Regions from separate parts of the Homo sapiens genome. Here regions 2, 3 and 4 are each linked to region 1. The links come from fine-mapping of genetic effects on gene expression. A gene starts in region 1. Each other region holds a variant in brackets. All regions are shown on one strand. Distances are between the middles of the regions.

The links. PIP is the estimated chance that this variant, and not a neighbour inherited with it, causes the effect.
Region 2: its variant is fine-mapped to the expression of SLC38A10 in whole blood (TOPMed, PIP 0.95).
Region 3: its variant is fine-mapped to the expression of SLC38A10 in blood mononuclear cells (TOPMed, PIP 0.90).
Region 4: its variant is fine-mapped to the expression of SLC38A10 in whole blood (TOPMed, PIP above 0.99).

The regions. Positions count from the first base shown.
Region 1 is chr17:81,291,988-81,299,318 of GRCh38, reverse strand. It overlaps SLC38A10 (solute carrier family 38 member 10), which reads left to right and starts at 4,012. Exons shown (of 16, transcript NM_001037984.3): 1 at 4,012-4,496. The coding sequence starts at 4,398. It overlaps LOC124904082 (a long non-coding RNA gene), which reads right to left and starts at 1,413. Exons shown (of 2, transcript XR_007065941.1): 1 at 398-1,413. RefSeq lists an enhancer at 3,347-3,436 and silencers at 4,097-4,366, 4,467-4,536.
Region 2 is chr17:81,244,089-81,250,792 of GRCh38, reverse strand. It overlaps SLC38A10 (solute carrier family 38 member 10), which reads left to right. Exons shown (of 16, transcript NM_001037984.3): 15 at 3,732-3,908; 16 at 4,120-5,982. The coding sequence ends at 5,237. Among named protein-coding and RNA genes, the nearest start is that of NDUFAF8, 8.1 kb to the right of the region's middle. RefSeq lists enhancers at 5,541-5,630, 5,841-5,890, 5,991-6,110. The variant A/G (reference allele first, on the strand shown) is at 4,032.
Region 3 is chr17:81,158,212-81,165,542 of GRCh38, reverse strand. The region is part of intron 1 of AATK (apoptosis associated tyrosine kinase); the gene reads left to right. It overlaps PVALEF (parvalbumin like EF-hand containing), which reads right to left and starts at 36. Exons shown (of 7, transcript NM_001354639.2): 1 at 1-36. RefSeq lists enhancers at 1-524, 525-1,268. The variant C/T (reference allele first, on the strand shown) is at 3,273.
Region 4 is chr17:81,325,528-81,332,858 of GRCh38, reverse strand. It overlaps TMEM105 (TMEM105 long non-coding RNA), which reads left to right and starts at 2,185. Exons shown (of 3, transcript NR_165247.1): 1 at 2,185-2,715. RefSeq lists enhancers at 418-988, 989-1,559, 2,703-3,272, 3,273-3,844, 3,845-4,416. The variant T/G (reference allele first, on the strand shown) is at 3,437.

The DNA of each region.
Region 1 (7,331 bases):
TTTCACAGAAGAAAAATGGACAATAAAAATATGAATAAATAATTCACCTAATTTGTAATAAGAACAAATTAGAGCCACAAAGAGATTCCATTTCATTCACCGGACTGGCCAAACTGACAATAACCAAATGTTGGAGCAGAGGCCCACAAGCTAAGCCCTGAGGCCGCACTGGGCCAGCTGCTGTTTTTGTAAATAAAGTTTTATTGGAACACAGAGATGCCCACTTGTTTACATATTGTCTCTGGCTGCTTCTGATCTGCCATGGCAGAACTGAATATTTGTGAGACCATTTGGCACTGCGAGAGACTAATGACACAACTGAATATTTGCGAGAGACCATTAGGCCCGCAAAGCAAAAAATATTTACTGTCTGACTCTTAATAGAAAGTTTGCCAACCTTTGCTGTAAACCAGGAAGAGCTCTTATAGCTACTTTGAAGAGCAATTTGGCAAGATCTAGTAAAGTCATTTAGGTATGCATACGCATACTCTGCAGTTCCACTTGTAGGTGTTTACCCTAGAGAGACTTGAACAAACACACGTTCAGGAGACAAATCTGTTCACTGGATCACTGTCTCTGAGGCAAGTGACTGGACACAACTCAGGTGCCCTCGGCAGGAGAATGGATGCGGATCTGGGCTATTTAAGTAACGGAGTTCCACAGAGCAGCAAGAATGAGACTCAGAGCACATGCAACATGATGGCAATTCTTGTGAACAAAGTTGAACTGGCCGGGTGTGGTGGCTCATGCCTGTAATCCCAGCTCTCAGGGAGGCAGAGGCAGGAAGACGGCTTGAGCCCAGGAGTTCGAGACCTGCCTGGGCAATACAGTGAGACCCCGTTCTCCACAAAAAGGAAAAAAAAAAGACAAAAAAAGAAATTTAAGTGTGACAAAGTTGAGTGAAAAAGAAAGTTGCAGAATAGCACATATATGTAATTCAATTCTTACAATAGTCCAAAATGCAAAGGTGCCCCATCCCAATACACTACTGAACTAGGTAGGCTACAGCTTTGGGTTCATGAAACAGAGTCCAAAATCATGGTGAGCGCAAGGAGCAGGTTTGTCTCTCCCTCCCAGAGCAGCTGGGAGGAGGTAGTCGTGGATGGGCATGGTGGCTTGGCTCCATGAGTTGTCCAGGGATCCAGGATCCTTCTAGCTTGGTGCTCCACTCTGCCACGGTATCACCCTTGTCTGCACTGTCCGAGATGGCTTCCTACCATCGTGTCTAGGTTCCAAACAGCATGATGAAGGAGCGGCAGACCCCCTCCTAAGAAATGACCTAGAAGTTTCTCCTGTCATTTCTGCTTCTTATTGTCCAAAACTTGGTCACATAGCCAGCCCTACCTGCAAGGGACACTGGCAAGTGTATTCTTTTTTTTTTTTTTTGAGACGGAGTCTCACTCTGTCGCCAGGCTGGAGTGCTGTGGCGCGATCTCGGCTCACTGCAACCTCCGACTCCCTGGTTCAAGCGATTCTCCTGCCTCAGCCTCCTGAGTGGCTGGGATTACAGGCACACACCATCACGCCCGGCTAATTTTTGTATTTTTAGTAGACAGAGTTTCACCATATTGGCCAGGATGGTCTCGATCTCCTGACCTCGTGATCCACCCACCTTGGCCTCCCAAAGTGCTGGGATTACAGGCGTGTGCCACCGCGCCCAGTCTTTTATTTATTTTTTTGAGACAAAGTCTTGCCCTGTTGCCCAGGCTGGAGTGCAATGGCACGCTCTTGGCTCACGGCAACCTCTGCCTCCCGGGTTCAAGCGATTCTCCTGGCTCAGCCTCCCAAGAACCTGGGATTACAGGTGCGCGCCACCACGCCTGGCTAATTTTTTGTATCTTTAGCAGAGATGGGGTTTCACCATGTTTGCCAGGCTGGCCTCAAATTCCTGACCTCGTGATCTGCCTGCCTCGGCCTCTCAAAGTGCTGGGATTACAGGTGTGAGCCGCCATGCTCGGCTGGAAGTGTATTTTTTATCCTAGGCAGTCATACGTGCAGGCCAATTCCTATTAATTTGGAAAATGGAATAAACGAATATTAAGAGACAGAGAGTCAGCTGGGCGCAGTGGCTCACGCCTGTAATCCCAGCACTTTGGGAGGCCGAGGTGAGCAGATCGATTGAACCCAGGAGTTTGAGACCAGCCTGGACAACATGACAAAATCCCATCTCTACAAAAAAAGTGAAAATTAGCTGGGCATGGTGGCACACACCTGTAGTTTCAGCTACTGAGGGCCTGAAGTGGGAGGATCACTTTAGCCCAGGAGGGAAAGGCTGAAGCAAGCTGAGATTGTGCCACTGCACTCCAGACTGGGTGACAGAGTGAGACTCTGTCTCAAAAAAAAAAAAAAAAGAGACAAATAGTCTTCCCCATAATTGTTTAGGGATATATCCATATATGGTAAACCTTTAAAGAAAAGTAATGAATTGATGGAATCTGGATTGTGATGTCTCAGGATAGCAGGGAAGAGGGGAAGAAGGTGCTGGAACTGGGGAGGAACTGAAAGGGAGGATCTAAGTCTTCGGTAATATTTTGTTCTTAAAGCTCAATAGCGGGTCCATGGTATTTGCTATTTGTGAAAACATACATGTAAATTGCCCAGCCTACCTCGCATGCATAACATTTGATGAAAATTACATAATAAAAAGGAGGTTATGGAATGTGTATGCCATTTCATTTATATAAAAGTAAATGGGCTGGGTGCGGTGGCTCATGCCTGTAATACCAGCACTTTGGGAGGCCGAGGTGGGCGGATCACCTGAGGTCGGGAGTTTGAGGCAAGCCTGGCCACCATGGTGAAACCTGGTCTCTACTAAAAATACAAAAATTAGCCGGGTGTGGTGGCGGGAGCCTGTAATTCCAGCTACTTGGGAGGCTGAGGCATGAGAATAGCTTGAACCTGGGAGGTGGAGGTTGCAGTGAGCCAAGATCACACCACTGCATATACAGCCTGGGCGACAGAGCAAGACTCTGACTGAAGAAAAAAAAAAAAAAGAACGCAGGCATTTGTTATTTTGCCTGCGTATTTAATTAGTCTTTACCCAGGCATTTCCTCCTGTTCTCCTGAAGGTGGGGCACAGCCTTACTTGGTGGCTGCACTGCCAGTGCCTGAGGAACGGGCCTCTGTTCTAAGACACCTGGTCCTGCAGGTGCTGCAGACACGGCCTCCTTTCCTCCGCCGTCCTCCCCCAGCAGCCTGGAATCACTTGCTGCTTCCCAGCCATTCGGTCTACGCGCTCATTCATTAGACTCAGAGTGAGCAGCTAGGTGCCAGGAATCCACAGATCTATCGGGACCCTTCTCTGTTCTCTCCTCTCCCCGGTCTCCATTTCTACCCGAGGAATTCTCATTTGTCCTTCAAGCTCCAGCCTAGAAGCCACCTCCTTCTGGAAGCCCTCCCGGGTTTCCCTGTTCATGTAAGCCTCCACCTCTCCTGTCCCCTCCAGGAATGTCCCTTGCTCTTTTCGTGTGAAAAGGTGAAGTTCAACATTGCCACTGATCTGGGCGCAGTTCGGCAGGGCACCGCCTCCCCTTGGAGCTGTGTGGCCTTAGCGGAGTGGCCGAGCCTCTCTGTGCCCAGCGTTTCATTCCTACCTCCTAGGTGCTAATTCCTCACAACAGACTATTTTTCGGCTGAGGCAGTCAGGGCCCCCGCCCCCGTGCCCTGGCGCCAAGCACTCGCCCCAGAATCGGTCCTGGGAATAAAGGTCAAAAAGGAACCCTTAAACCCGCTCCTCCCCGGAAGGCACAGCGCCTCCCCTTCTCTCCAGCCCGCGACTGCCCATCCAAACCGAGGCCTCGCGGGGCGAGTCCCTTGTCCTCCAGCTCGTTGAACTGGGGCCCCGGGCACAGGTCGGCTGGACCAGCTTGGCGAACCGGACAGCTGCGAGACCCTCAGGTGCCCACCGGCCCAGTTTCCGCCCGCCCCTCCGGGCCCGCCTCTCATTGGCTCGCGTCCCACCAAACCCTACCCCCTGGCCGTCACTTCCGGGCAACGGAGCCCGTGGAAGGCGGAAGTGTGAGCGCCGCGGCGGCAGCTGAGTTGGGCTGAGGTGTCCCTAGCTGGCTCTGCGGCTCTTCCGGGTCTGGGCTCGGAGATTCACAGGCGGCCCGCGAGGCCGAGCGAGGGACGCATGGCCCTGAGGCGGCCGCAGGGCTTGGCGGGGTCCGGAGGTTGACCTCGCCCCCGCAGCCGGCCTTCGAGGCTGCCTCCTCCAGGCAGCCTCTGGGGCCCGCGCCCGCGCCTGCTCAGGCTCCCGTGTTCAGGCTGCCCATCCCCTCCCCACCGGCGTCCCGGACGTTGGGACCTGTGACCGTGGCCTCGGGCTGGGCTTCCAAAGCCGGCCGCAGCCCGGCGACCCCCGAGGCCTCTCGCCCCGGGCCCCTAGACCTCTCACTATGACCGCGGCCGCCGCCTCCAACTGGGGGCTGATCACGAACATCGTGAACAGCATCGTAGGGGTCAGTGTCCTCACCATGCCCTTCTGCTTCAAACAGGTGAGTCCGGTGGGCCCGGAGATCACCGCCCTCGCCTCCCCCGCAGAGGGGGCGTCTGGCTGGGTCGTCCTGGTTAAAGTTCCCGCCGGGGCAGGGCTTCGCTGGGCGGGTGCAGGCGGCCGCGGGCGGGGCGACCCTCTGGGTCCCGGCGCAGTTCCCGTAGAGAATCCGTGGATGAGAAGCGCACGGCGTTGGCCCTGGCAGCCCTTGTCAGCCCGGGCCGGAAAGTTCCCCACACTCAAAAACTCGATACCGAAGCAAAGTGTAACAAAGCAAAATGATCCTCCAGAATCGGAAGGGAACGGTGGGACTCCGTATTTTTACATTTTATCGTGTTTTTAAAAACTCTGACCCAACTGCACCTGTCTTCAGAAGCACACAACTCACCACTCCCAGGCTTCGACACTAGATAGGGACCTTGGTTGCAAGGTGATTAAAAACATCCACCAGGTTATACACCTAAGATCTGCGTTTCACAAAAACCGCACATTTGGCAGGGGGTGGTGGCTCACACCTGTAATCCCAGCACTTTGGGAGGCCGAGGCGAGTGGATCACCTGAGGTCAGGAGTTCGAGAACTGCCTGACCAACATGCTGAAACCCCATCTCTACTGAAAATACAAAAATTAGCCGGGGGTGGTGGCACATGCCTGTAATCCCAGATACTTGGGAGGCTGAGACAGGAGAATAGCTTGAACCTGGGAGGCGAAGGTTTCAATGAGCCGAAGGTTGCAGTGAGCCGAGATCACGCCATTGCACTCCAGCCTGGGCGACAGAGGGAGACTCCGTCTCAAAAACAAAAACAAAAAACTGCACATTTGATCTAATGTGTGCAGACGTTACCACAGTTGGAAAAAATCTCAAATACAAAAAGTTTAGCGTCATTCCAGCATTGAATAACACATGAAAGAAAATGGCCATTTCTAAGTGTCATCTGTTTAATCTACAATAAACAAGCATTTAGTGCTTTGGAAAAGAAAGGCTGACTGAAACGTTACCAAGTAGGTAGAAAAATGAAAACAACATGTATATTTTGAAACAAAGTGGCACCAGTAGTTTAATTTTAGATTAGCTTAGCAAACACTGTGTTTTTCATATTCATTATCTTTGGAATAAAAATATCCAAAAAATTTTTTCAGCCTGGGCAACATAGTAAGACCCCGTCTCTACAAAAAAAATTAAAAGTTAGCTGGGCATGGTGGTGCATACCTGTAGTCTCAGCTGCTCGGGAGGCTGAGGCAGAAGGATCACTTGAGCCCAGGAGTTTGAGATTACAGTGAGCTATGATTGCACCACTGCACTCCAGCCTGGGCAACACAACAGTACCCCATCTCTAAAAAAAAAACAACTTTTTTTTGATCAAGGAATTTTCAAACCCTCCCGTGCAGCCCTCCAGGCTGTTGTGTCTGAGTTGTTTGCCTGATATGGTTGGTGAGCCTGTCAGGGGAAGACAGGGCTACATGCCTCCAGAGCCCCCCGGGCAGCATCTGGTCTGGGCGTGGAGAATCCCAGCTTTCTGCCAGCCACCTCTGGGTGTTTCTGGACTGACTCCATGTCCCAGTGTCCACTGTGACTTGCCTGGCAGCAGAACTGCATTCTGGCATGTGGAGCAGTAGCTGGTCCTTCTCCTGCAAGTCAAAGACTGTTATCTTTGTTTTTTCAAGACGGAGTCTCGCTCTGTCACCCAGGCTGGAGTGCAGTGGTGCAGTCTCGGCTCACTGCAACCTCTGCCTCCAGGGTTCGAGTGATTCTCCTGCCTCAGCCTCCCAAGTAGCTGGGATTACAGGCATGTGCCACCACGCCGGCTAATTTATTTATTTATTTATTTATTTATTTGTATTTAGTAGAGACAGGGTTTCCCCATGTTGGTCAGGCTGGTCTCGAACTCCTGATCTCAGGTGATCCACCCACCTCGGCCTCCCAAAGTGCTAGGATTACAGGCGTGAGCCACCGTGCCTGGCCCCAAATGCTGTCATCTTTGATGCCTGTCGGTGAAGTGCCACCGTGGAAGGGGCTCTGGTTTAGACACCTGTGAAAGTACATCTTAGGGCCCAGACGATCCAGCTATCTCGAGCCTTGGACCACCTGCCATGTGGTGGACATTAGGCCCCTGCCAGAGCATGTGCTGATTAGCCGGGCATCTGCACAGACCTGTCAGGAAGTGAAGGACTAGAGACGTCCTTCTGAGTCCTGAGGGCTGCCCAGAGGGAGGCCCAGTTGCTCTGATCTGGCCGCAGCGTCTCCTCCACGGCAGCCTTCTTGGACTGGGGCGCAGGGAGACGCCAGCAGGCGATTTGGGGATGTGTGTGTTTAGTGTTTGGCAGCCTTGGCATTGAAAAACTTTGGATTAGTGTTTTTTTTTTTGTTTTAGTAGTTTTGATATATTTATATATATACATAGCTGGGCGTGTTGGCTCACGCCTGTAATCCCAGCACTTTTGGAGGCTGAGGAGGGTGGATCACGAGGTCAGGAGTTCAAGACCAGCCTGGCCAAGATGATAAAACCCCATCTCTACTAAAAATACAGAAATTAGCTGTGCGCGATGTCAGGCGCCTGTAGTCCCAGCTACTAGGGAGTCTGAGGCAAGAGAATCGCTTGAACCCGGGAGTGGAGCTTGCAGTGAGCCAAGATCGCGCCACTGCACTCCAGCCTGGGCAACAGAGTGAGACTCTGTCTCAAACAAACAAAAATATATATCTATATCTATATCTAGATAGATATAGATATAGATCTATATAGATTATATATATAATAAACATTGAAGTTTGACATACAAAAATGTGTACACACTTCTTTAGATGTGCTGTTGATGAATTTTCATATGACGAGCAAACC
Region 2 (6,704 bases), 48 kb after region 1:
CCCGTCTGTGAGCCTGCTGGGGACAGGCTTCTGTGCCATGTCCTCTCCCAGGCTAGGGGTCCACCCGCCCTCTGAGGGTGTGTGGCTGGGCCCCCGCTCACCAAAAGTCACGTGCATTTGGTGGCAGTGTCCAAGCCTTCTCTCAAGATGGTCAACCCTGCCCCATGCGGGGTCCACGTGTGCCTCAGCATTGAGAGGGTCTGTTCCAGGGATCTGTGTGGGGGTCGCAGGGCACAGCCGCTCCAGCCTCCTGTGCCAAGCCCCTGGGAGCAGGTGTGGGAGCTCCGGGCCAGCCCTGGCACGGGCACCTCCCAGGATGTTCGTAAGACACACGCTTCCTGCCCGCGCATCTTGCCCTGTGGCCTCAGGACAGCCGGTCCGAGGGAGGGCAGGTGCAGCAGCCACGTCCCAGTCGCTGCGGCCTGGCTTCTCCAGGTGCAGCTCGCCCTCCTTGCACCTGCAGCGCGGAAGGCAGAGCCAAAAGGCGCCCCCTGGGCTCCCGGAGCTCTGAGCCACTTCAGGAGTTCGGGCATGTGGGGTTTTGTCTCCGGTTTTAGTCTGGCCATGTTTGTTGGTTCCAATTCCTATGCTCTGTTACCTGAACCTGTTTGATTCTTTTGATTTTCTTCTTTCTGAAAAAGACTTTTCACGGTTTCCTATTCTGCCTTTCTTCCGTATGCCTCTCAACGGGACGAGCAGCTGAAATTAAAAAGATAGTAGCAGGTACGAACCCAAAGGAGTGTGCTGAAGTCAAGAGCCTGTCTGGCGGGCCACAGACCTGAGCGCAGCCCCTCGGTGGCACACCTGCCCCAGGGACAGCCCTGCATGGGGACACGTGTCAGGCCCCAGACCTGCGCACGCACCCAGGCTCAGCCACAGCCCCTCAGGCAGGGTCCCGATGCCCACTCTGCTCCCTTGTGTTACAAATGCCGTGGTCCTTCTCAGCCCTGCTGTGGCCTTGCCTGTCATCAGAGGGCAGCTGGTCTCTGCAAGCGTCTGAGTGCAGGCTGCTTAGGGCACCAGCCAAGGGGGGACGCTGCCTGCACTGCTGCCTCATGGGCCACCTTGACAGATCTGCATGGGTCTCAACAGGTGGGTGGCTTCGTGCCTTCTGCAGCCCAGTCCCCGTGGTCTTGGTGGGCTCTGGCTGTAGGAACAGCCTGTCTCCTCCACGGTGCTTCACATGTGTCCCACGTGGCTTCTGGCTGGACGTGGCATGGCTCCTTCCCCCCTCCCCCTCTTTTTTCCTCCTCTTCCTCTTCCTTCCTCCCTCCTCTTCCCTCCTCCCTCCTTCTCCCTCCTCTTCTCTCCTCCCTCCTCTTCCCTCCTCCCTCCTCTTCCCTCCCTCCTTCTCCCTCCCTCCTTCTCCCTCCTCTTCCCTCCCTCCTTCATCCTCCTCTTCCCTCCCTCCTGCTCCTCTTCCCTCCCTCCTCCTCCTCTTCCCTCCTTCCTCCTCTTCCCTCCTTCCTCCTCTTCCCTCCTTCCTCCTCTTCCCTCCTTCCTCCTCTTCCCTCCTTCCTCCTCCTCCCTCCTCCTCTTCCCCCACCTTCCTTCTCCCTCCTCCTCTTTCTCCCTCCCTCCTCCCCCTCCCCCTCCTCCCTTCTGTCTCCTCTTTCCTCCTCTTCCCAGCACCAGGCCCAGGGCTAGTCCTTTGAGGAGCAAGTGAGGCCATGGTGCCTGCTCTTTCGGAACCCTGCCCTGGAGTATGGGGAGGTGTCACCAGCACATGGGATCTCGTCCTTGTACCATTGACATTCCGTGGTTGAGCCCCGCAGCACCCAGGGCGAGCACGTGGCCCACGGCCGAGGTGGCTGGTCTGCCACCTGCACTTCCTCCTGTGAAAGGAGGTGTGCGGGAGACCTGCTCTGCCCGTCATGGCCTTTCCCTGCAGGCAGGCGTCTGGCCCGGGGTGCTAGCAGGGAGCAGGGGCTGCTGCTTGAGGGCCGGCCCCATGGCCCTGATCTCCTTGGAGCCAGCCCTGTCCCCCACATCCAGGGGTCTGGGCGAGGCCCAGGGCTGCGTTCCTGGGAGAATGCTGACCCTGCACTTCTCTGGCTGGTCATGGTGTCACCACTGGGGAGGCTGGGCCGGCACGTCAGTCTATGCCTGGCATGCAGGGCCGTCCCTGAGATATTTGCTCTCACCACTCACAAAACATCCTTCTCGCTCCTGGATTGAACTTTTATGCCTCACAGCCCTAACCCATCATTTTTCAAAGCTTCCTATAATAATTTGAAAACATCTTGTAAAAATGACATAAGTCACAGCCGCTTGCGGCAAATAACTGGCCAGTGTTGAAGCGAGTCAGACCGGGTGCTCCTGCACCAAGTGTGTGCCAGCCGTAACCCGGGCAGGCCTGTCCTCTGGCCCTTGCTGCAGGCACCAGCTCTTAACACGGGGTGCACTGGGGCTCCCCATCACGCAGGACCTGCCCAGAATTTCCACAGTGGATGGTGTTCAGGAGCGGTGGTTAGGATGGCTGGCGGGGGCCTCACTGACGCTCCAGCTCCCATGCTCCCCTTAGAAGACAGCTTTTGGCCGGGTGCGGTGGCTCATGCCTGTAATCCCAGCACTTTGCGAGGCTGAGGTGTGCGAATCACGAGGTCAGGAGATCAAGACCATCCTGGCTAACACGGTGAAACCCCATCTCTACTAAAAATACAAAACATTAGCCGGGCGCGGTGGCGGGCGTCTGTAGTCCCAGCTACTCGGGAGGCTGAGGCAGAAGAATGGCGTGAACCCGGGAGGCGGAGCTTGCAGTGAGCTGAGATCGCGCCACTGCACTCCAGCCTGGGTGACAGAGTGAGACTCCCGTCTCAAAAAAAAAAAAAAAAAAAAAAAAGACAGCTTTTGTTTGTTTTTAAAATTCTCATCTCGGAGGAAACTTTCTAGAAGTACCAATATTCTTTTCAAAACATAGCTTACAGTTTTTCTTTTCTTTTTTTCTTTTTTGAGACAGGGTCTTGCTCTGTTGCCCAGGCTGGAGTGCAGTGGTGTGATCACGGCTCACTGCAGCCTCGACCTCCTGGGCTCAAATGATCCTCTGGCCTCTGCCCCCCGAGTAGCTGGGAGTACAGACGCCTCTCACCATACCCTGATCATTTTTATTTTTTTGTTTTTTTTGTTTTTGTGGAGATGGGGGTCTTGCTATGTTTCCCAGGCTGGTCTCTAACTCCTGGGCTCAAGCGATCTGCCTGCCTCCGCCTCCCAAATTGCTGGGATTACAGGCGTGAGCCGCCGTGCCCAGGCTTATTTTCTTACGTGCTTGTCCTAGAACAACTGAATGTGTAAAGTGGAAAAAACAAAAACAAAACCCCACCCAGCCCAGATAACCATCTCTGACATTCTGGCACATTCCTTTTGACTGTTGCTCTGGACACTCACTTCCATGGGCAACGAGCAGGCTTGCTGGGGTCCTGCCGGGTGCGCCTGGGGCACAGCCAGTGGGAGAACTGATGCGGCACAGTGGCTGGCTGTGCGGGAGAGGCCATCCCGGGTGGGCTTCCAGGGGCAGTCAGGGCGCAGCCTCTCCCGGGCCCTCAGGCCTGCGTGCATCACTGAGCTGTCCGGGCTTCACGGTCACAGTCATGATGGGTGTCACCAGTGGCCAGTGTTCGGGCACACTCCCTGCAGGTGACCTGTGCGTTGCCTTGCTGTGGGCCGCGCCGTCCCTGGCCCAGCACGGTGCATGAGCAGCCCGGGCACTCTGACTGTGTGCTTTCCAAACCCAGAAGCTGGCAGGGCGGAGATGCTGGACCACGCCGTCCTGCTTCAGGTGATCAAAGAACAGCAGGTGCAGCAAAAGCGCTTGCTGGACCAGCAGGAGAAGCTGCTGGCGGTGATCGAGGAGCAGCACAAGGAGATCCACCAGCAGAGGCAGGAGGACGAGGAGGATAAACCCAGGCAGGGTAGGCCGGGCTGGCGGATGGAGTGGGGTGGGGCCAGGCAGGGGGTCTCCTGCTGTCCTCATGCGGCTGGGTCTGAGGCTCGGTGGCCTCTAGACCTGAGCGTGAGTCTGGTTTTGGTTCCCA[A/G]TGCTGTTGTTGCTGGTTCTTCTGAGCCCCTCCACTGGCAGCCTGTGTACAGTGCTGTGGCTAAATTGATGACCGACTTCATTTGCAGTGGAGGTGCATCAAGAGCCCGGGGCAGCGGTGCCCAGAGGCCAGGAGGCCCCTGAAGGCAAGGCCAGGGAGACGGTGGAGAATCTGCCTCCCCTGCCTTTGGACCCTGTCCTCAGAGCTCCTGGGGGCCGCCCTGCTCCATCCCAGGACCTTAACCAGCGCTCCCTGGAGCACTCTGAGGGGCCTGTGGGCAGAGACCCTGCTGGCCCTCCTGACGGCGGCCCTGACACAGAGCCTCGGGCAGCCCAGGCCAAGCTGAGAGATGGCCAGAAGGATGCCGCCCCCAGGGCAGCTGGCACTGTGAAGGAGCTCCCCAAGGGCCCGGAGCAGGTGCCCGTGCCAGACCCCGCCAGGGAAGCCGGGGGCCCAGAGGAGCGCCTCGCAGAGGAATTCCCTGGGCAAAGTCAGGACGTTACTGGCGGTTCCCAAGACAGGAAAAAACCTGGGAAGGAGGTGGCAGCCACTGGCACCAGCATTCTGAAGGAAGCCAACTGGCTCGTGGCAGGGCCAGGAGCAGAGACGGGGGACCCTCGCATGAAGCCCAAGCAAGTGAGCCGAGACCTGGGCCTTGCAGCGGACCTGCCCGGTGGGGCGGAAGGAGCAGCTGCACAGCCCCAGGCTGTGTTACGCCAGCCGGAACTGCGGGTCATCTCTGATGGCGAGCAGGGTGGACAGCAGGGCCACCGGCTGGACCATGGCGGTCACCTGGAGATGAGAAAGGCCCGCGGGGGGGACCATGTGCCTGTGTCCCACGAGCAGCCGAGAGGCGGGGAGGACGCTGCTGTCCAGGAGCCCAGGCAGAGGCCAGAGCCAGAGCTGGGGCTCAAACGAGCTGTCCCGGGGGGCCAGAGGCCGGACAATGCCAAGCCCAACCGGGACCTGAAACTGCAGGCTGGCTCCGACCTCCGGAGGCGACGGCGGGACCTTGGCCCTCATGCAGAGGGTCAGCTGGCCCCGAGGGATGGGGTCATCATTGGCCTTAACCCCCTGCCTGATGTCCAGGTGAACGACCTCCGTGGCGCCCTGGATGCCCAGCTCCGCCAGGCTGCGGGGGGAGCTCTGCAGGTGGTCCACAGCCGGCAGCTTAGACAGGCGCCTGGGCCTCCAGAGGAGTCCTAGCACCTGCTGGCCATGAGGGCCACGCCAGCCACTGCCCTCCTCGGCCAGCAGCAGGTCTGTCTCAGCCGCATCCCAGCCAAACTCTGGAGGTCACACTCGCCTCTCCCCAGGGTTTCATGTCTGAGGCCCTCACCAAGTGTGAGTGACAGTATAAAAGATTCACTGTGGCATCGTTTCCAGAATGTTCTTGCTGTCGTTCTGTTGCAGCTCTTAGTCTGAGGTCCTCTGACCTCTAGACTCTGAGCTCACTCCAGCCTGTGAGGAGAAACGGCCTCCGCTGCGAGCTGGCTGGTGCACTCCCAGGCTCAGGCTGGGGAGCTGCTGCGTCTGTGGTCAGGCCTCCTGCTCCTGCCAGGGAGCACGCGTGGTCTTCGGGTTGAGCTCGGCCGTGCGTGGAGGTGCGCATGGCTGCTCATGGTCCCAACACAGGCTACTGTGAGAGCCAGCATCCAACCCCACGCTTGCAGTGACTCAGAATGATAATTATTATGACTGTTTATCGATGCTTCCCACAGTGTGGTAGAAAGTCTTGAATAAACACTTTTGCCTTCACCCAGCCTCGGTGGATGCTGTTTGGTGTCCAGGAAGCACAGGGAGCAGGGGCCAGACAAGCCGGGTGTCCAGGGGCACTGGCCGGTGCCGCCCTTTGCACTCCTCATGGTTGGCCCAGCCCTCCATTGTCTGTGTTTTTCAAAATCCAATTGTGGCTTTTTTTAAAAAGTAAAAAACACCACTGATAACCTGATTAGTGAAGTTGGTCCTGGGGGAGTGACTGAAAGGAAAGCCTGAGGCCGGCTCAGGATTCCAGATGTGTAAAGCAGAGGCCAGAGGTCATGAGGGAACGGCGCCATGACCTGAGCGTCGCAGTGACTGGACACTAGACGCAGCACAGCCCCAGAGAGACCCTGTGAGCAGGCAGAGCCGCCTGGTGCCAGGAGGTGGTCCAGCCCCCAGGGCCAGGCTGACGGGCGTGCTGCCTCGTGACCAGGACACGCTCCACAGCCCTCTCACCTGGCGGGAGAGAGGAGGTGCTGCTGTGTCCACAGCATCCGAGTCTGCTTTGGCTCGTCCTCTGGGGAGCTTGCGCCCCAACCCTGCCACGAAACCCTGCCACGAAGGGCAGAGGACCAGGGCCTGGGTCTGGGGGAGGCCCGTGTTGGCGAAGGGTCCCTGCATGGAGGGCCGGCCTCAGCCTCTGGTGGTGTCTTCCTGCACCTTTTGATATCCTTTTGGCTCTTTATTATAGTTTCTTCCCTTGAAGGATGTCACTGGGCAGCCTGAAGACTGGAAATTTTTTTTCTTTTGAGACGGAGTCTCGCTCTGTCACCCAGGCTGGAGTGCAGTGGTGTGATCTCGGCTCACTGCAAGCTCCGCCTCCCGGGTTCACGCCATTCTCCTGCCTCAGCCTCCCGAGTAGCTGGGACTACAGGCGCCCGCCACCACGCCCGGCTAATTTTTTTTTCCGTA
Region 3 (7,331 bases), 130 kb after region 1:
GGCGTGGGAGGCTTCTTCCCAGGCTGGGAGCGATTCTCAGAGCCCTGCCCAGCCACCAGCAGCCGGCGGGGGATGTGGGGGGAGCAGGGGCCAGTCCACATTACAGAGCCCAGTGGGCAGAGGCTCAGAAGAGAGGGGCCTTGGTGGGTGCCCAGATCCCCTGACAGTGGGGGCCCGAGGTGACGCTGTCAAGCTGGCTGCAGGGGACCTGAGGCCAGGCCTCTTACCCCGTATGGCCAGTGCACCGGGCAGGGCGAGATTACCCATGGCTGCCTGGCCTCCTGGCTGTGGTGGACAGCTGGGATAGGCAGAGGGGGCTGGGGACAGCTGGAAGCCCCATCTGTCACCAGGAAGCAGTGGGCTTTCTAAAACCTCTGCTTCTCCAGATCCGGCCCCTGCTTGGCCTGAGTGGGAGATAATCCCCCTGCCCTGTGCCATCCATGGCCCCAGGGCCAAGTCCCACCCACACGTCACTGGGGCTCTGGCACCAGGCTGAGCCAGCCCAAACAAAGCCTGTTTGCATGTGACGTGATCTCCTGTGTCTCCTTCCCTGGAGCAGGGCCCAGTGCACGCAGCCTGGCAGGGAGGCACGGGGGTCCCCGGGGCAGATCTCGGTCTGAAGGCATTTGCTCCCTGGAGGAAGGGAGCTGGTGGGAGGTCTGTCTGCTGGGCTTAGGGCTGTGGGTGTCACTTGCTCAGAAATGACTTCCTGTAGTGACCCCTGGGGCTCGGAAGTCCCTGTGGGGTGGGCAGGTGAAGGCTCAGAGCCCAACAGCCACGGCAACAGCTGTAATGTCTCCCCGGCCCAAGGGCAGGGGGTGGAGGAGGCTTGGGGCAGGTCCTCATCACATCTCCATGCCAGGCGTGGCCCACGGTGCTTGGTCCTTTCTGCCCCCAGAACAGAGAGGACCCTCGGCCCATACCCTGCCTCGGGGCCCAGCCTTGTCCTTGGCCATGAGAGGCCCTTTCCCCCGCCTTCGAGCAGCACCGGCTCTGCCCTTCTCTGGGTAAACAGCTGTGATCTGAATAATTCTAATGTGTCCGTTTAATGACTTAGAGGAAAAGAAGTTGTTGGAGGCAAGGGGCGTCTCTCCTCTGCAAGATGCTGGGCCAGAGCTGCAGGCACCTGCTGGGCTCTGGGGCCCACCTACCAGGAGGGGCTGCCCAAGGTGCTGGTGCTGGTGAGGAAGGAGACCCTCCTTCGGATTAAGGGGCTGGGTCTAGGCTCTGCACCAGCCCCCATGAGAGGGTTAGGGAGGAGAGAGGGGTCTCCTGCCCTCCCGCTAAACTTAGCCCAGCCTTCCAAGCCTGGCTGTCCTGTGCTGCAGTCCCTCTGCCTGGCCTTGCCTCTGTGAACCTCGGTTTTCCCATCTATGACATGGGCCGACAGTACCTGTGGCAGGCCCGGGTGGGCTCAGTGCTTGGTGAGCACTTGGCTGTCTGTGCTGGAGTGGTGGTGCTGGGACAGAGACCCCCAGGGCCCAAGCTTCCTACAGCATGTGGCTGGCTCCTTGCCATCCCCGAATTGGAGCGAGCTGGTTCCTTCTGAGGCTGCTTGTGTCTGTGGGGGGGCACCCAGAGGGGAGGGGCCCACGCTTGTGGCTCTGGCAGTTGGCTTGTGTGTCACTCAGCATCTGGGGCAGTGCTAGCACCTGACATGGGGGTCTCACCTCAGTTGCCAGGCCCTGCCCCGCTGCCGGGCCGGCTCCTTGTTCATCGCAGGAACTGGTGCCAGTCTCCATAGAGGTGACGGCAGTTGTGGTGGTACAGGGGGCAGAGACGCCCGATAGTGCAGGGCCTGAGAGTGGAGGCTGTGGGCACAGACTGTGGGCTGCCTGGGCCCCTGACCTTCCGCACCAGGCAGATGCGGGCAGGGCAGGGGGCACCCGGCCCAGGAGCCTGCTTGAGTGCCAGGAAGAGCCGCCTCCTCTGGAGCCCAGCTCTTCCCCCATCTCCCTGACACTCGGGAGCGTGGCTGGGGGATTTCTTGGCAGCTGCAGCCTTCCAGCCTCTGTGCTGTGTGGCCTCGGACTACTCACCCAGCCTCTCTGAGATCCGTTCTGCACATGTGAAATCTTGCTCTGGGGAGACTAGTGTGGGCATGGCGGCCAGGAAAAGCAGGGTGATGGGGGTGACACATGGGCAGGATGGCCGGGTCCAGGCTGGCAGGAAGGGGGTGGCATGGCCTTGAGCGAGCAGAGGTCACCCCTTCTACCTGAGTGCCCCAAGGGAGGGGGCTGGCCTTGTTGCTCACCCTCCCCAGCCTTCACCTTCCCTGGTGCGGCCTCAGGGCGTCATGATTTCTAGTCGTCCTGAGCCCTGGGGCCTGGAGCTGTCCTAGGCTGGAAGTGGGCATGGGGACACCGCCTCGCTCCGGCTTCTGGAGAGGCGCGCTCAGCCTGAGGGTGGGGGTCAAATGCTCTGCACAGTTAGGAGCAGGGGTTTGCCCTGGGGCCACCTCTGGTTTGCTGAGGGGCCCTTCTGTGACTGGCTCTCCATGCCTGTTTTGTCATCTGTAAGGTGGGAATGGCTGTGATGGCCAGGTCTGAAGGGACAGCAGTGGTGCACTGAGCCAAGGGTGGGTACCTGGGCAGTGCCTACCATGGCTGATCCCTGACGCAGAGGTGTCACTGTTGACCAGTGGGCAGGGCTTGGAGTTTGTGGAAGTTCTCGGAACACGTGGCAGCCTGGATTTGCCACCCCCCAACCCCCGCCTCTCCCCTGTCCCTCAGCTCACGCCCTGTCTCCTGCCCAAGGTCTCTCCCTGTGTCTGACCTGAACCAGGCGCCATGGGGGGTTCCTGGGAGAAGTGCCTGTGCCTGGCCACGGTGCTCGCTCTATCAGCATTCATGTGAACCGGACACCTGGCACAGGGCTGGGCAGGCTGGGCCTCAGGATGAGCCTATTGATGGGGAGAGGGCAGAGGAGGCAGCGAGCCCCGGGCCAGGCATGGCCTCAGTGGCAGGGGCAGGGCTGGACTCAGGGGCTCAAGGGGCTGAGCAGGAGGCCATGGGCCTGGGTGGTCCCCGGGAGTCCTCCCCTTGGAAGGTGCCCCACAGCTGACACTGCCCGGGCACCAGGTGTGGAGTCTGTTTGAAGGCAGCTGCTGCTTCAGTCTCCCAGACCACTCAGGCTCAGGCAGCAAGCACCTGCCCTGGGAGGAGTTACCTGTCCTCCTCTCGCCCCCGGGGTCTCAGAGGATGCCCCAGAGGAAGCTGTGCCCATGAGTTCGGCCCATCCCCCTACTTCCTCTCAGGTCTCAGGTCTCCCAC[C/T]GAGACCCTTAGGCTGCAGGTGTGCAGGCCGAGGTGGGTTCTTGGAGAGGGTCCCATGGGAAGGCTGTGTGGACAGTGGCCTTGGGGAGCGGTCACACGCAGGCCGTGGGCCCTGGGCACGGGTCCGGCTCCCACCTACCAGCATGGGTGCGGGCACTCGGGGAGGGTGTGGGTGTCGGCACTCGGGGAGGGGGTGGGTGTGAGGCCCCACACTCCCAGGCATGGGTCAGGGAGAACATTTCTCTCATTCCGGCACATTCTCCAGGAGGCCAGGCTGTGCGCTTCCCTCCATGGGGTGGTGCAGTGACCCAGAGGACCGGCCCCTGCAGTGGCCACCCTGTGGGCCCGAGTGCCCCAGAGCTGGCTGGGGTGGGCTGGCAGCTGTTGTGTTGTGTGGAACATGCTGGAAGGTCTGCCTTGTGCCACCCTGCATGTTTGGGATGCATCGACTCCCCGCCATGCCCTCTGCCTCCCCGGCTCCCAACCCTGACCCTGCCTCACGGGAGAGTTCTGGCGTGGGCTGGTGTCCTGGGCCGGGCCCTGCTGTGTGACCATGGACAGGTCTCATAACTTCTCTGTGTCTGTTTCACCTCTGAAATGGGGTCCGGCAGCACCCACGCTCCAGGAGGTTCCTGAGAGAACCCGGGGGCCGTCACGGCAGCTCCAGGGCTGGTGACTGTTCACGTCCTCTCTGCACTCACCCACCACCCCGGCCGCCTGGGAACTGTGCTCCTGCCTGTGCCCCCTGGAGGCATGTGCTGAGTGGAATATGTCACCCCAAACCCATGCCCGCCCAGTACCTCAGAATGGGGCCTTATTTAGAACTAGGGTCTTTGCAGCTGTAATCAAGTTAAGATGAGGTCGGACCGGAGTAGGGTGGGCCCTGAATCCAATGACTGGGGCCTGATAGAAAGAGGAGGAGTGGCGTGCACGCGGGAAGGAGGCCACGTGCAGAGGCTGGAGTGATGCAGGCCCAGGAGCACCTGGGGCCGCTGTGCCGGAGAGGCAGGAAGGATCCCGCCAGCGCCTCGAGGGAGTGGCCCTGCCCATGCCGTGCTTTCCTCCTCCACTGTCCAGAACTGTGAGCACATCCATTCCTTGCCGTCTGGGCCAGCAGCCCGTGGTCCCAGGACACACATCTGGGGGTCTCCTTGGGTCTGAGGGGTGAGCACAGCTGCCTCGAGACATCAGGAGCCTCTGACTCCATCCTGAGAAGAGTTATCCTTGGAAGAAAATGAGGCCACGTGCTAGCCCCCAGCCTCAGAACCCTCCAGGGCGCTTGGCTGGGTGTGAGGAGGAAGCAGGCCGGGGCCACAGCTGCGTGGCATCCTCTGCCTCCTCCTCGGTCCACGGGGGAGGCAGAGGGTCCACGGAGCACCTCGGTGTCTCCTCGGATGTGGTGTCGGCGGTGAGCCTGGGACCACGCTGTTCTGCTGTCACCGGCCTCCTGTCTCCAGCTCACGGGGTTCTTCCGGGGTAGGCTTTTCTCGAGGGCCACCTGACCCCTCTGTGCACGCCAGGGCAAGGCTGACGGGAGGCCCACTCGACCACTCCTGGGTGGGAGCCTGATGCAAAGCACCTGCCGTGGGGCCTCGGCCTGCGGTCCTGTCCCTGGTGGCACAGATCCAGGGGCCCAGGAGCCCGTGTCCGTGGTGGGGAGACTCCCGTCCCCTCCGCAGGCCACAGTGACAGGAGGGCTTTGGCGTCTGGGCCCCCCTGGGCCTTGCCCTGCCTTTCACAGAGGAACAAGCGCCCGCGGGACCGGCGGCCTTGGCCTCCCCGCCCCCCCGCAGAGGAAGCCGGCAGAGGAAATGAGGGCAGCGGACGGGGCCGGAGCCAGTTCCCAGGCACCTCTGAGAACTGTCACGGGAGGCGGCGTCCTCGCCGGGTCTCCAGCCTCCCTCCGCAGGGACCGGGGCCTGGGGTCAGGGGGCTGCGGCCTTGGGTGGGGCTGGGGCGGGCTGGGGTCCTCCCGGGGGTCACTCTGGGGTTACAGCCACGGTCAGAGCCACGCGGGAGCGACACCCAGAGCCTGGTACGTGGGGGTTTCTGGGAGGATGCGGGCTGTGCTCCCACTGCCAGCCTGGGGGTGGGGGCCGTGGCCAGGAGACTCCTGCTCCTGCAGGGACCCTGCCAGCGGAGGTGGCCGTGCCAGAGCAGGCAGGGCCTCTGCAGTGGGCGATTCTGGGCAGCCGGGGCCACCTGCCCCAGGGGGAGTGAGGGGCAGGATGCTACCCCGAGCCAGGGCTGCTCAAGGCCACCTCTCACGGCGGGGCGTGGCCAGCCTATCCCCATCTCACCCTCGGGGAGGGTGTGGGGTCCCTGCTGCTGAGGGACAGGAATCTGGCTCTACCCACCTGCCAGGGTCCCCAGGAAGACCCCTCCCTGTCCCTGGTATCGGGTAGCCCTGGCCAGCTGGCCTGGGGGAGCCAGGCTGGGGGGCAGGGGAGCTGGTCCGGGACCAGGGCTCTGCCGAGTCACCTCTGTGCCAAGGCCACGGTTTGAGGCTGTGGCTTGAGGCCGTTGTGGGATGGAGCTGGGGATGCCGTCCTCGGTGTGAGGATCCTCCGACGAGGCCCTGGTGCTCGGTGGGGCCCCTCTGGCTTCCCTTCTGCTCTGCTTCTGGGAATTCTTAGTGACTCTGAACAAGGGGCCTTGGGTTCCCTTGGTACTTGGTCCTGCGGATTCTGCAGCCGGTGGGGCTTGCTTAGGGTTTGGGCTCCGCTGTGAGGCCCACGTGGAATTTCCTCGAACCCCCTGCGAAAAAGGCGTGTGGCTTCCTAGTGACCACGGCACACACAAGTGCGCTCTGACCTCCGGGGTGCGGGTCCGGGGCTTCCCCGCATTGGATTTACCCGCGCGGCAGCACGCCCAGCCCCCGAGAGTCCCCGCCACTGCCCCCAGGACTGCTACCTGGCCGGTCACTCGCAGGCCGCCGGCGCCCTCCCAGCTGCCCCATGTTGGGGATCTCGCTCGCTCTCTGTGAATGATGCTCAGTTGTGGGCTGTCCCGTGGGCTGCTATCGTGGACGCTGGAGTGAGGGCCCCTTTACTGAGAGGTAACTCACATACCAAGGACCCACCTGTGTCAAATGAGCAGCTGGGGCTTTCCTGCATTCCCAAGAGTGCAGCCATGGCACGGCTAGCTGTGGAGCATCCCTGCCCCTGACAGAAGCCCCATGCCCGAGGGCATCACTCCCCATCCCCTGCCCCCAGCCCTGGCAGCCACCGATCTGTCTCGGTCTCTGGGCCCCTGGCCTGGACGTCTGTCTCATAAGCAGGGTCCTGTGGCCTTGTCCTCTTTGGGCCCTGAGGTTTTCGCTGTGTGTATAGCGGCCCCAGGGATCAGGGGTGCTGGTGTGTGACTGTGGGGCACTGTCCAGGGAGCTTCCAGGAGGTGGTGCCATTTTGCCCCCATCCCCATGGACGAACGCCTCCATGGCTTCCCCTCCCGCCAGTGCTGGCTGCTGTTTTTATAACGCCCGGGCTCGTGAGCATGTGGGGGCTGCCCATGGTGGTCTTGTCTGCCTTTCTGTGGCGAAAGATGTCAGGAGCCTTTCCAGGTCCTGCCCAGCTCTTCTGAGCCCCTCAAGCGAGTGCCCATTGGAGGTATTTTTTGGTGGTTTGTACCTGGTGTCGGGCAGCCCTGGCCAGCTGGCCTGTGGGAGCCAGGCTCGGGGCAGTGGGCAGGTCCTGGACACAAGGCCTCAGGTCTGTGCGCAGTGAGCAGGTGGCCTGCTGCTTCACTTCCCGTGACCCTGTGCAGGGCTGAGCACCAGCAGCTTCCACCCTGAAATGGGCCGAGGTGAGAGCACTTGCGGCAGGAGCCGGCACACGCCCCGCTTTCCTTCCCAGGGAGCTGGGTGCAGACACTGACCAGCACACCGCCAGGCTCAGGCACCTTCTCTCCCTGGGAAGCTGCCTGGAATCTCTGTGGCCCAGAGGCAGGTGTCCCTGAAAGCAGCTCCTGGCCCCAGGGATGAATGACGGGGAGGACGGACCCTGCTCGGACCCTGGCTCTGGAGGCTGGGCCCCGCCCTGCTCTCTGCCGCGGGGTCTG
Region 4 (7,331 bases), 34 kb before region 1:
GAAGCCAAGGTGACACAATATTTTTTAAAAGGGCTTCTGGGTACAAATCAGTGTACGTACAGAAATACATTTTATTTGTGCAGATGTGCAGAGACACTTTCGGCTGGCATGGTGGTTCATGCCTGTAATTCTAGCACTTTGGGAAGCCAGGGCAGGAGGATTGCTTGAGCCCAGGCTGGACAACATAGTGAGACCCCATCTCTGCAAAAAACACAAAAATTAGCCAGGCGTGGTGGTGTGTGCCTGTAGACCCAGCTACTTGGGAAGCCGAGGATCGCTTGAGTCCAGGAGGTCGAAGCTGCAGTGAGCCTTATTCTCACCACTGCCCTGCAGCCTGGGCAACAGAGCAAGACTCTCTCAAATCAATCAATCAATAAATTTGACTGCAGGTGCCAGAAGTGGACTCTGACTAACTGAAGCCGGGAGCAGGTATTTGGTTGGAGCTTGCAGCAGGGAGGGCAGGGGGAAGGCGCTGTTCAGGCCCCAACAGCAGCGGCTCGGGAGTGGCCCCAGCACAAGCCCAGTGTCCCTCGGCTCAGCATTCAAATTCCAGGAAAAGAGTCCCGATGGTCCGGCTTGGTCTAGGGCTGTGGCCCGTGGCAGGTCCCCAAAACCACACCTGCCGCTCCAGTGCCCCCCAAGGCTGCATGACCTTCGTGTGGACAGGATCATGGAACACATGACCTCACCCAAGCCTCCCAACCATGCCGTGATCCAGCACTGTTAGAATCATCCCCGTTTCACAGAGCAGAGTTGAAGTGTTGGGTGTTTAAACGCTGTGCCCAGGGCTGTCCAGCCAGGGAGTGGAATCTGGTCCTGGCCCAGAAGGCAGCAGCCCCACCCAGGCCACCTGCTCCAGGTCCCCGGGCTCCACAGACTTTCACATCTACTGCAGAGGCGCAAGGACGTTCCCCAGCATCAAAGCCCTCAGACCCTGGTGCCAGCCACGTCGTCACAGAACTTGTAGACCAGAGGATGCCCTGCGGATAGAGGGCCTGCCCTGGGCCTGCGCCAGGCTGGGCATATTGCTGAGGTCCCTGCTCTGTGCTGGCAAAATCCAGACCTCAGGAGAGGGGCAGGCAGGCTCTGAGAGGTTGCGGCTGCCCAGGGCCTGCAGCTGGGAGGAGCGGAGACAGACCCCCCCTCCCCTGGGACACAGTTGCTCTGCACCACACAGCTCCGCTCCTGGCGTCCCCTGGCTTTGCCGGGGGCGGCCGACCCAGCTGGCCAGGCCCCCTCCCCCTGCCCCACAGGTGGCCCTGAGCTGCTGAGGATAAGGCATGCTGGGCGATCTCTGCTGATTAGAGTCGCCCTCCGCTGTGGGCTAGGGGCCCCTATTTTGCTCCTGAGATCCCAGTCGGCCCATAGAAGCCCTCACAGGCTCTCCCGGGGGTCCAAGGAGTCCCAGGAGGCCCCCGTTCACCCCGGGTTTGCCTTCTCCCTCCTGTAATTTGCTTTTCATATGCGTGAAGGGGAACTCAGCAGGAGCAGAAGATGATGTGGCCTCGTGGGAGCGTGGGAGAGCTGGGACGGGGTGGTGGGGAGGAGCGGGGACCCAGGGACAGGGGCTCTGGGTCCAACCACCAGGCCTTTTGCACTTCGTGCTCTCTGTAGCCTCAGCTTCCCCCGAGGGTCAGGAACTCCAGGCAGGGGCATGGGGCAGCTCAGAAACCTTCCTGAGCCCCTTCCCCTGGCAAGAGGCAAACCAAGCAGGTGAGGGCTGGGCCCTGTTCTCAGAGCTGGCATCCCAGCCCTGGCCAGATCCAGGCTGAGGGCGGCCCAGCCCCCTGTTCTGCCTGGTGCAGAGGACACGGCTTCCCTGGCCGGAGCCCCCGCCCCCTCCTCTCCTTTCTTGGCGTCTGCCCCTGGGCGTGCCCTACCATTAAGCCCTTGTTGGTTCCACAAGCTGGGGGCACCCCTTCCTCCCTTCCTCCGGGCAGCCATTGGCAATGGCTGGCGGCTCGGGACAGGGCCCGTATTCTCTGAAAATGATGGCTGGGCTGGAACCCGGGATCGATTCTCAGACCTGCGTCATGTGGAGTCCCGGATGCTTGTTACGAATTCGGACCCTGGCCTGTGCCTGCTCCCTGGTACCTCTGAACAGGGCTTTCTGCCCTGGGGGTGTGAAGAGGGCCAAGTCCACTCCCCGACTGGGGTCACGCCTGCCTCCTGTCAGGACTGTGAACACTGCGTCCCCATCAGCTCAAAGAATACGCATGGGGACAAGCCTGGGGGGCCGTCTGAGAGTCCCCCAACCCTGGATCCCCACGGCAGCCCCCACTGTTGGGTTTTTCAGTGGCTGGTGTGCCCTGGGCTGGTCACCTCTGCATTTTGCTCTGCTGGGAGTTTGCTCCTGGCCCTCCAACAGCGCCTCCTCTGTGAGGAGGAACTCCTGTTCCCGTGGCTCTGCTGGCTCTGGAGGCTGGAGTTCCCGTGCTGGGCCCTCCTGGGCGGGTTCTCTCTTGCTGCCGCCAGTACCCTGCCCCTCTCGTCCTCCTGGGTAGCCTGGGAGGAATGGCAGAAGAAAGCAGTGAAGCCAGGTAGCAGTAGCCCGGCCACCCCACCAGGCTCTGCTGTAGGCTGGGCTCTCAAGGCAGCTGCTCCAGGAGGGGCCCCCTAGGAAGGGACTGCCACACTCCTGGGAGCGTTCCTGGCCCCCTCCAGTGCAAATGACCCTGGGCCCCAAGGCTCCGAACACCCGCCCCTCTGCTCCAGGTAAGAGGGAGATGTGGGTGGTGCCTGGACTGTTGTGTGCTTAGGTGGGGGAGTGGAGCCTTCAGGTCTCAGGAACCCACAAATGCTTGTTGAGCTGATGAACCCTGCAGAGATGAGAAGCTTAGGCCCAGAGAGCTGATGCCACCTGCCTGGGGCCACAAAGTCCACTGGGCAGAGGAGGGTGGGAACCCCAGTCCTTGGCCCCACTGTCAAAGCGGGTGCTTCCCAGGGAGAGCAGAGCCTGGGGTCAGTGCGGAGGACACTGGATCCCCAGTTCCGGGCTGGGGAGAGGCAGCTGGTGTTTCAGTGCTGCAGAGAGGGCCAGGCCGGCCTCAGACACCCTCCCCGAGGCCTGTGTGGGGGTGGAGGGCGGCCACACCTGTCCCACTGCAGGCCCTGGGGTGGGGTTTCCTGTCTGTGCTGGAGCCCGGTCAGGTTTCTCACTTCGCCCGGGGCAGGGGTGCAGGGCAGATGGCCCAGCCAGTCATGAGTCACCAGCCCAGCCTGCCGGCCTGCCTGACAAACGGGAAAGACCCGGCGGGTAGGAGCTGGGCTGGGAGCATCCTAGCTGGGCCTGGGCCAGCCCCTTCCTGGGAGAGGAGGGAAGCTGCCTCAGGCCTCCGGGGAGAAGCTCCCACCTGGCCCGGACCCTCCTCCCTCCTCCCTCCTCTGGCGGGGTGAGTGGGCTGAGGGCCTGCTGGGCCCCTGCATGGTGGGAAAG[T/G]TTGGGGAGGGGAGGGGTTTCCAAGCCTCAGCCGTCCAGGCCTACGCATCCCAGATCTCGCTCGCTCCACAGCGCTGTGCCATGTCATGGGCTTCTTTTTTCCTGGTCCGAAGTGTTAGTATCTGCGAAATTGCAGGCTTGATGTGTTGGCTTTATTTTTCTAACACACACTAAAATAAATCATGCGTGTTTTACAGTGTGTTGGGGCCATCTGTGGGTCACGGACGGCCCTTCTGGCCTGGGGGCTGGCCAGCTCTTTCTGTAGGGTCCAAAGAGAGCTTGAGTCCCCAGCTGGGGTAACCCAGGCAGGGATTTTCCCGACATGTAGCCCCAGAGCAGGGAGGCTGTGGCTTTGAGGAGAGGCGGAGTCCTCAGCCCAGCCTTCCTCAGGCCTCCAGAAGCAGCCTCGCCAGGCAGCCTGGGTCTGCCACCCTGCAGACAGTGTGCAGGGCAAGGGAAAAAGGACAGGCCTCTCTCCAGCCCCACACCTGCCCACGCCTCTCCTGGAATTGCCCCCATCAGAGCCCCTTGGGGGCTCATTTTCAAGTCCCCTGCCCCTACTCCGGGGACCCGGGTAGCCCTGGGCTAGCCTCTCCTCCCTGGGCCCCGCCGTCCTCATACACACCTTGTCCTTAAGCTGCCTTGGCTCCCAGGGGTGCTCAGTGTGGCCATGGCCGACAGCCCTGGACTCTTACAAATCAAGGGGGAGACACGCGAGGCCCCGCCCCCACCCTGGGCCCGGAGCCAGGTGTCCCTCAGGAAAGGGCTGCTGCAGGTCTGCAGGAAAGTGCAGAGGGTGCCCTGCGGGAGAGACGCCCACACTGCTGCCCAGCACGGGCTGCTGAGAGCCTGCGAACTCAGGCTCTGGGGCACACAGAATGCCCCCACCCCCTGCCTGTCCACCTCTTGCCCAGTCCCTCTTGCGGGCACTGTGTCCTCCCTATGGGGCTGTGAGCCCTGCCCTTGCCAGCCCTGCTCCTGCCCTGGAGACCCTGGGGGTGATTCAGGGGAGAAGATGCATGGGGTGAAGGGCGAGGCTCCCGGGCGGGTGAGGGTGGGCTGGGATCAGCCCCACTGCGAAATGGACCCCGGGGCTGATGCACCTGTCTTCCCCAGGCAAGCCTGTGGCGAGTGGGGGCTGGCTCAGTTGAACCCTCACTGCATACCAGGGCTGGGCCTCAGCTGCCACCATGATCGCAACTAGCTCTGAGAGGTAGAGGCTGCTCCGTCCCCAGATAAAGATGAGGAAACTGAGGCGCAGAGTGAGGAGGCCTCCTGCTCAGATCCTGCAGCTGGGGAGGAGCAGAACTGAGGCCCTCCAGGCAGCCCCGGCTGCTTCGGTCTGCCTGCCAGGCTGTGTCCAGGCCATGTGGTCTTAGAGGCCACCCCTCTCACCTGAGCCGTTCTTGGGTGTTCCTCACCCAACAGCCCCCCTACCCCGGCCCAGGAATAGATACAAAAATCTTTCTTTTCCCTCAAAGGTTAAAATCTGGATTGAAAAAGCAAGTGGGGTTTGTTGGCCTCTCAAAAAGTGGAGCATAGGCCGGGTGCGGTGGCTCACGCCTGTAACGCCAGCACTTTGGGAGGTCAAGGTGGGCGGATCACCTGAGGTCAGAAGTTTGAGACCAGCCTGGCCAACATGGTGAAACCCCATCTCCACTAAAAAGACAAAAGTTAGCCAGGCGTGGTGGTGAACACCTGTAATCCCAGCTACTTGGGAGGCTGAGGCAGGAGAATCGCTTGAACCCGGGAGGTGGAGGTTGCAGGGAGCCAAGATCGCACCACTGCACTCCAGCCTGGGTGAGAGAGCAAGACTCTGTCTCAAGAAAAGAAGAAAAGAAAAAAGAAAAGAAAAGAAAAGAAAAAAAGCAGAGCACAGGATTCCCACGTGACTCAACGATGCCACTCCGGCTACAGACCCCAGAGAACTGAAGGCAGCAGCTGGTGCAGACGAGAGCGCCAGAGTCCACAGCAGCCCTGGTCACGGCCAGCAGGAGGTGGAAGCACCCAAGTGCCGTCGACCCATGAGTGGACAGACACACAAGTTGTGGTCTAGCCACGTGTGGAACAGGGTTCAGCCTGGAAAAGGAAGGAAATCTGACACCCGCTACTGCGTGGATGGACCTCAGGGACGTTATGCTAACTGAGGAATTCCAGACAGAAAGGGACGTGGTGTGTGCTTCCACTTCTGTGCAACTTCTAGAACAGGCCATTCACAAAGACAGACAGAAGATTTGGGGTCACCAGGGACTGGCGGGGGGGCGGAGGGTGGGAGGGATATTGCTTAATGAGTACAGAGTTTCTGTTTGGGATGATGAAATGTTCTGGAACTATTAATAGAGGTGACAGTTGCACAACATCGTGAATGGAGTTGATGCCATTGAATTACACACTTGAAGATGGGTCCGTTGGGGCCGGGCGAGGTGGCTCATGCCTATAATCCCAGCACTTTGGGAGGCTGAGGCAGGTGGATCACCTGAGGTCAGGAGTTCGAGACCAATTTCACCAACATGGTGAAACCCCGCCTCTACTAGAAATACAAAAAATTAGCTGGGGGTGGTGGCGCATGCCTGTAATCCCAGCTGCTTGGGAGGCTGAGGCAGGAGAATCGCTTGAACCTGGGAAGCAGAAGTTGTGGTGAGCCGAGATTGCACCATTGCACTCCAGCCTGGGTGACAGAGTGAGACTCTCCAAAAAAACAAAAAAACCACAACAGAAATTCGTTTTCTTGTGGCTCTAGAGGCCTGAAGCCTGAGGCTTGTATCTACTAAAAATACAAAAATTAGCTGGGTGTGGTGGTGCACGCCTGTAGTCCCAGCTACTCGGGAGGCTGAGGCAGGAGAATCGCTTGAACCCGGGAGGCAGAGGTTGCAATGAGCCGAGATCACACCACTGCACTCTAGCCTGGGTGACAGAGTGAGACTCTGTCTCAAAAAAAAAAAAAAAAGGAGGGGGGACCCTGTGCAAGGCCAGGAGGGGCCCACCTGCGTCATCTGGCAACCCATCCCTTCTGAGGGCCAGACCCGTTGGCAGCAGGGATAACAGGCAATGCCTCTGTACTTTGCCTTTTTTCTTTTTAAAAGACAGAGTCTTGCTCTGTTGCTCAAGCTGGAGTACAATGGCACAATCGTGGCTCACTGTAGCCTCAAACTGCCAGGCTCAAGTGATCCTCCCATCTCAGCCTCCCAAGTAGCTGGGACCACAGGCATGTGTCACCACACATAGCTAATGTTTTTATTTTTAGTAGAGACGGGAGTCTTGCTGTGTTGCCCAGGCTGGTCTCAAACTCCTGGGCTCGAGCAATCTTCGCACCTCAGCCTCCCAAAGCGCTGGGATTACAGGCATGAGCCATGGTGCCTGGCCCACTTTGCTTCTCATTCAAAGGTTGGATGGGGAAGGTGAAATCGTCAGGGCCAGGAAGGCTGGGATCAGCTGTGGTCTCTTCCTGCTCCCTCCTCTGCCTGCTCTCGGGGCTGCTAGGCAGAGCTGGCTGTGGTCGGTCAGGCAGCATCCTTCCTCTGGCCTGCATCTTCCACTTTTTCCCACCGCCAGAAACCTGTTGGAGGTGGACCCCGGCGTCGGGCAGGTGCTGGTGGGCGTGGCCTCCCCTGTGGCTGAGAATGAAGCCTTGCCTGGTTCGTGGTTTGGGTTTTGGGGGCCTCAGAGTGTGAGCCTGAGCCAGAACCTGGTCCTCTCACCACTGGCCCTGCAACCCTCCTGGCTGCTGAGTGCACGCATCGCCCTTCAGTATCTGTGCCGGGAATAACATCTGCACACGTGTCACGAGACACACAGGCTCACGGTGGCACTCAGGGATGCCCAGGCATTGCAATGCTAAGCCTCAAGTGACAGCAGTGGTTTGGGGATGGCCCAGAGTCTCCAGTCTCCCCAGCAT